2 linked regions of the Homo sapiens genome follow. The protein of the gene in region 1 purifies or fractionates together with the protein of each later gene. This does not show direct contact. Each region holds a gene or a part of one and is shown on either strand. Other genes may lie near its edges.

Evidence for each region.
Region 2: the proteins of SLC12A2 (region 1) and OXSR1 purify together in Homo sapiens (pull-down; one study listed by IntAct). This does not show direct contact.

The regions. Positions count from the first base shown.
Region 1 is NC_000005.10:128,181,198-128,184,854, reverse strand, and holds part of SLC12A2 (solute carrier family 12 member 2), read right to left. Parts: intron 2,001-3,657; coding exon 1,914-2,000; intron 490-1,913; coding exon 354-489; intron 133-353; exon of another isoform or gene 67-132; coding exon 1-66. UniProt on the Homo sapiens protein: Cation-chloride cotransporter which mediates the electroneutral transport of chloride, potassium and/or sodium ions across the membrane. Plays a vital role in the regulation of ionic balance and cell volume.
Region 2 is NC_000003.12:38,224,516-38,228,172, forward strand, and holds part of OXSR1 (serine/threonine-protein kinase OSR1), read left to right. Parts: intron 1-55; coding exon 56-189; intron 190-3,657. UniProt on the Homo sapiens protein: Effector serine/threonine-protein kinase component of the WNK-SPAK/OSR1 kinase cascade, which is involved in various processes, such as ion transport, response to hypertonic stress and blood pressure.

The DNA of each region.
Region 1 (3,657 bases):
GACAATAATATTAGCTGTGCTTGAATGTTCCTTTAATAACTCATTTAACCTGATCTGCCGGTATGTCTGAAATGAAACAGGACAGTCATTCCTAGACCATGTGGAAATAAGAATTTAGCATGGTTCATAAAACTATAAGGAGACAAAAAGAAACTGAAATGAATTTTCGTGTAATAAAAATATCTGTTCTCTATTTTTATTTTTTTTAAAAATGCTTTCCACTAACCTCAAATAAATCTATTTTAAAGTAGAGTTCATTTATACAACTGACCCTCCTATATCAAATTAAAGTTCTTGGTTTTCATGTCTTTTATTATATAAAAGATTAATGAAAAGGAAGCAGAAGAGAATACCTTGGTCTTATAAAGTTCAAGCTCATTATCTGTTATTCGCCATGGTTCATCTTCTTTCATTTTATCTGCAATATCTTGCTCTTTATCATCTTCATGAAGTCTGTATGGCTCAATGATTTCCTCAAAAGCTATAATACTTTAAAAAACAGAAAGAATACTGACAACTAATCTTATTTTAAGTTACATAACAGGAAGATCTTAAATATTAAATTGTAACTTGCAAAGTTAGTGCCTCTCATTTATTACGCTCCTCTCCATACCCCAACCATAATAATCAGTTTGGCAATTTATTTCAAAAACAGCAATTTCTAGTCTCTCAAACTGATGAGAAAATTAGAACCCATATAGACAATACAGATTGTGCATCCCTAATCTGAAATCCAAAATGCTTCAAAATCTAAAACTTTCTAAGCACCAATACGATGTCTAATGGAAATGCTCAGTGGAACATTTTAAATTTCTGATTTTTGGATTAGGAATGCTAAACCAGCAGGTATAATGAAAATATTCCAAAATTTAAAAAAAAATCTGAAATCTGAAACACTTTTGGTTGATCCCAAGCATTTGGGATAAGGAATCTCCAACCTGTAATAAATTGCATTTTTAACTGCTAAAGCTGATCTCACTGTTATCTACCCCGCCTCCCCTTATGGCCATTTTCTCTCAGCCTAAATAAATTTTACCATAGTAGCTAACATGATCCCTTTGAGCAATAAGTCAAATTGTGTTACTACTCTGCTCAAAACACCCAAAGGCTTTCCCAGTTATCAATGAATAAAAGTGATGTAAAAAAATGTACTAGAACATTTTGAAGGGGAAAAGGGCAGACACTAAAAATTTAAGGAAATGCAAAATTAATTTCTACATCCAAAGATATTTAACAGTAAAATAACATGAATGGCATTCTAATCCTCTATGAACATGAAAAATATTTTTCAGTATCAAATCTAGTATGAAACACCCAGTATACACTGTGTTACAATAAAAGCAATCTCACCCTGATTACAACCTTACAAATTGTACCTTACTATTTTCTATCTAAAAGGAATTCTTTATATCAGCTTCATATTGATTCAACATTAATCTAAGAATTAAAATTATATCAGGTAAAATAAATACAAATATCATTATAACAACCTGTATATACCATTTTCAGGTGGAATATTCCAAAGTCTTTGCTAGAAGAATTCTGAATGCAACTATTGCAGGCAAATGTTTAGATTTTCCTATTTTAGCAATAAAACAAAACAGTGGAAAGTAATAGGTATGTAGAGCAGGGACTGAGTGGTTATAACGACTGTAGGCAGGGGCAATGGAAATGAACCACCTTTCAGAAATCACATGTAAAGCTGTAATTTAAATCCTCTCTGAATATTGAAAACTCTTTAGACTTTCTTTAATATCTGATATATGCATGCCAACTATCAATGCTAGATTTTTTAAAATATTGACTTCACATGTAACTAACAACAGGAAAAAAATCTCTGGGTTTTAATTAAGTTGAATCTGTGTCTGAGTAGGCCATCTATAAAGGGATCAGAAATTTGTAGAGTAACTTACTTTTCTTTCTTTGGTTTGGTATTGATATCTCCTAGAACCATGATATCAGAAAAGTCTATCCGGAACTTGCTAAGCAAAGTAGCCATCCTACAACAAAAATAAATAGAATTAAGATACAAGTATTTTCATTCTATATTGGGCTGAATCCATATATCTAAAAAGCATGATTTATAGAAAAAGTCAGTCTATCATATGCTAAACAATATCCATTTGAATTAATTCACACCATTCATTCACAAAGTAGACTTAAATTCACTGAGTACTTTACTTTCTGAGTAATCACTGAGTATTTTACTTTCTCTGAATCTCTCCTTAGCACTGAGTAATGGACAAAGACATTAATAATAAAATTTAAATGGAAGCTAATGTTTCTTAAGTTAATTTTAGTCAAACTATATTGATAAGTACATAAATTTCAGTAAAAACTAGTAGACAAATATTTAATTATTTTTGGATTATTCTTCCATCCAAGAACACTTATCTCAGGGCCCAAATATGACCTGTGGGCCATACTGAAGATATAGTTGATGGCAGATTAAGTTCATAGCATTTTGGGGAAAGAAGGAACTGGGACAGGATGTAGAAAAGGATCATCAACAAGCCTGATTTTCCAGTAAATACCTTTCTGAAGGCTTAGCTGGCAATGAAACATTGGTGGCAACAACAGAACAGGTGAAGTGCACATATATACAAAAAGCAATTAACAAAATGCAATTTTATTTGTAATAAAAATGTTTTTAAATTGAGATATGAGAAAACAGATCTGCTATAGGTTTGACTATTAAATTTATTATTAGTATTTCTTGCATAATTCACTATTTGAAATGAATAAACAGTTGAATTCCAGGATCTATCAATTAAGTGGCTACTATAAAACATGCTAAACAGGGCCCACAAAACTTAAATAAGACAATAAATATAATACCAGCCATAATGTGATGAGTGGTAGGTATAAAAGTATATTGTGATTCCAGAAGGAAACATAACAACTAGATGGGGGGGTAAGTGGGGGGAAAATAGGAAAGGCACTATGAAGAACTGAGCTGGGTTTTAAAGAATGCAGTATTTAAAGAGATAAAAGGAGAGGCAAGTGAAGAGCTATTTACAGGAGAGAGATGAGAGGAGGCAAAGGAGTAAAAGCCTGAAGTCACATGCATGTTTAGAGCATAGGGAAAAGTGTACTGAAACACTGGGGGAAACAGAAGAATAGAAAGGGAATGAGAGGACAGACTGTCAAGGGCCTTGACTGCTACATTATAACAATTAGATTTTCTATGGCAGGTAGCAGAGAAGTCGTTTAACTATTTTGGGTAGAGGAATCATATGGTCAAAACTCTGCTTTCTGAAAAATAAAACTGGGTTTCAATGCTTCTGAGTACCCATGTCTTACCTTTGACCCATAATGTGTACAATATACATATTAATTAGGTTGAAGATTATGCATATTATGTACTCTGTACAATATACATGTTACAGGTCAAAGACAAAACAAGAGTACTTAGAGAGCAGGAGAGAAATACTGAAACAAGAACTAGAATCGTGACAGTATAGATGGAAAGAATTGGATGGATGACAATGGCATCCTGCATTTTGTTGTCTAGAAGTCTACAACAAAATTTATCTCATATATAAATATGTAACGTTTGTGCATTTTCTCCCTGATTAAAAGAAAGAAGTTGCTTAACACTTTAATGTTACAAGTATTTAAGAAGGACCTTCTAAAATGCTAGTATGTTAAAAAAAA
Region 2 (3,657 bases), on another chromosome or scaffold:
TAGTTAAACTTTACTGAGTCATCACAAGTTTATAGTATATTGAAAATTCTTGCAGGTTTTAATGCTGACACTGCAGAACGATCCTCCTTCTTTGGAAACTGGTGTTCAAGATAAAGAAATGCTGAAAAAATATGGAAAATCATTTAGAAAAATGATTTCATTGTGCCTTCAAAAAGATCCAGAAAAAAGGTAAAATATGAGAAAAAGTCTACTTTTCTCTCTAATAAAACATTGTGAGAAGTCTAAGAATCACATACTCATATGTACAGGAAATTATTTTCAAAAGAACTAAATATAAACTTTAAAAAAGTATACAGAGACCATTATACTGGATTGGAAATGAATTGATTTCTGCCTTCTTTGTAGTATACAGTGTACCCTAAATAGTTCAGCTTTTTCCTTGTTAATTTCTTACAAAGTTGTACATTGTGAATTCTGTATTAATAAATGCCAAGTTAGTGGAGAGATTTGTTTTTAATTTGCATTTAAAATTTATAAATGAATGTCTTAATGCCATTTACAGTATTAATAAAGGAAAGACACATAGAAAATTTATATTTAGTGTAATAATCATACTTATTTCCATGTTAGAAAGATATTTTAGTAAGTGGACCAAAAATTCAAATAGCTTCCTTATCAATGTTAGACAGATTGAATGACAAGTGAGCAAATAAATAAGAACATCCGATATGTGTAACTTCATGAATTAAGCAGAATCGTAGAATGTTGGGGATCATTGAGTACAACCTTTTATTTTTGAGGTCACTTGATACTTAGTCATAGGAGTAGGACTTGAATCTCAAAGTCCTGATTCCTAACTTAGGGCTCTGTTCCTTCTGAATCTTATCTGTCTGTTTCACATATATATTCCACTCAGCTTCTTAGCACTGAGTTCTTTAATTTTTGTTTCTCTAAAGATCATTAAAAGGGAAAGACTTTGATGTTCTTGATCACATCTCTAGTGTATGTAATAGGGTTTCAGAATTTATTGTTGGAAATATTGGAAAGGGTAAGAAAAACAGGTAGCAAAATTTATACCTGTGTTTTTATAATTTTTTTTTTTCTGTTTCTGAGTAAACAGTTAAAAAAGACAGGAAACACTTTTCTTTTATCAAATTAGTTGGTTAAAGGAACAAAATTATCCTGTTACAAATACCTAGAAATGCCAGATAAAATCTATCCAACTTAAAGATTCTCAGATGCCAGAAATAATGAGGAAGCCCTAAGTTAAAGAAGAAATATTGTGAACTAATCCCATGGCTGTTTTCAGTGGGTCACTATTCATTCTGGTAACCTACTGATTTGGATTTATAACTCCCATGTGAAAACTGGAAGTGAGATCTTGGGTCCACCCAGTGGGGAGTTTGAACTGAGATTCTTCTTAAAGCTAAGAACTTCAGATGTCAGTATCCTTAGTAAAAGGATAGACAAGAATAAAAATTGTCATCACCAAGAGACAACAAAAACCTCTCCTGAATAATCAAGCCCTTCAACCTGGACATTCCACAGGTTTAGAGTCTATACTCCCTATGTTATCCAGGAACCCACAGGATTAGAAAGTTAAAAAAGCTTTACCAAATCAGTTTTTATTTTTGACGGAAGTAGTCACAGAGCTGCACTGGAAGAACACTTTCAAACTCTAGCTCCCATTGGATTCCTGAACATAATGCCCCACTGTAATAAGGTCACAATCCAAAATTAAGAAACACACAGTGAAACAATGCATTATGAACTAGTTAGCAGACACAAGCAGAAGGATTAGTGCTCCAGAAGATTTAGGTAATGCAGTGAAAATCTGAAAAGATACAAAATTAAGTATATTGAAAATAATTAAAATTAGAAGAAATCAGACCCACAAGAGAAGACTGTGACTATGACAGAAGAACCAAATAGCAATGCCAGAAATGAAAAATACAGTGATTAATGTTTAAAACTTTCCATGAGTGTGAGCTGGACTTGTTGACTCACTTCTGATGAGTAGAGTATGAAAAAGGAAAAATAGCAACTTTACAATGCACCTCCTCTACCCAATGACCAAGGTTAACATCACTATTAATAATACATTGATAAGACTGATATGTGCCTCTTGATATGGTGCAATGAGAAGGGCATATATATAACCTGTGAGGTATTCTTCCTCCAAATCCGTAACTTCGGTCTATAATGAGAAAACATCAGACAAACCCAAATCGAGGAATATGCAGCAAGATACCTGACCAGCACTCTTCAAAACTGTCAAGGAAGAGAGACTAAGAAACTGTCACAGATTGGAGGAAATTAAGAAGACGTGAAGACGGAAAGCAAGAGTATCCTATACTAGATCCTGGGACAGAAAAAGGACATTAGTGGAAAAACTGGAGAAATGGAATGAAGTCTGTAGTTTAGTTAATAGTATTGTACCAGTGTTGATATTTTAGTTGATTTCTTTATTATTATACTGTGGTTATGTAAAAGGTTCACAATAGCAGAAGGTGGTGAATGGCATGTAGGAACTCTGTACTAGCTTTGCAGCTCTTCTGTAAGTCTAAAATTATTATAAAACTTTAAGAAAACTGGAAGCTATAGAAAATCTATTCCAGTTTGTAAACCAAAATTAAACTTTGTTTAGAACATTGCTAAGTTAAAATAACACGCACAATGGACTGGTTAAACAGAACAACCAATAAAACAAAAAAGAGATTATTTACTCATCAAGTACCAGGCACTGTGGTAAACACTTAACATATATTGTTTAATTCTCACAGTAATCCTTTGAGGATAGCACTGTTATTTTCTTTATTTTACAAATGAAGAAACTGAATCACAGAGAGGTTAAGTAACCTTCTCCAAAGTCACACAGCTAATAAATGGTGGAATCAGAATTCTGACCCATGCAATTGGACTAGAGTTAACCTGTTTTAATCAGACTACACTATACTGAGGAAATTGCTCAGAATGTGGCACAGAAAGATCAAAGAGGGAATATGAAAGAAATATTAACATTTGGAGGGTAGACTGAGAAGGTTCAGTATGTTTGTGTGTATGCACATCCACACACACACACACACACACACACACACACACACACACACAAATGTACGTATACATATACATGAACTTACCAGGAAAGACTAGAGAGAGTATAGGAGAAGCGATATTCAAAGAAATAATGGCTGAGAATTTTCGAGAGTTGATGAAAGACCTATATTCTCAGAGTAAAGAACCATCCCCCCAGAATTCCAAGCAGTGTCCCCCTTCTTCCACTTGTACAAGTTGCTGTGAAACTACTGGACACGAAGCAAAGACAAACTCCTACAGGCAACCTCGGGGAACAGATTACCTACTGAGGATTAGCAGGTAGACTTGACAGCTACTTCCCCAATAACACAACAGTTGAGGCCAGCGTTTAGTGAAATGCTCAGAGAAAATGCAGTCATGTGTCACTTAAAATGATGAGGATACATTCTGTAATATGTGTATTAGGCAGTTTTGTCATTGTTTGAACATCGTGGAGTGTACTTACACAAACTTTGATGGTACAGCCTACTGCATGCCTAGGCTATTTAGTGTAGCCTGTTGCTCTGACTACTGTCAGATACACAGTATATTGTTGGCCAAAGCATTAAGAGGCTCATGACTGTGACTTTAACCCAGAGTTCTCCAGCTAGTCAGACTATC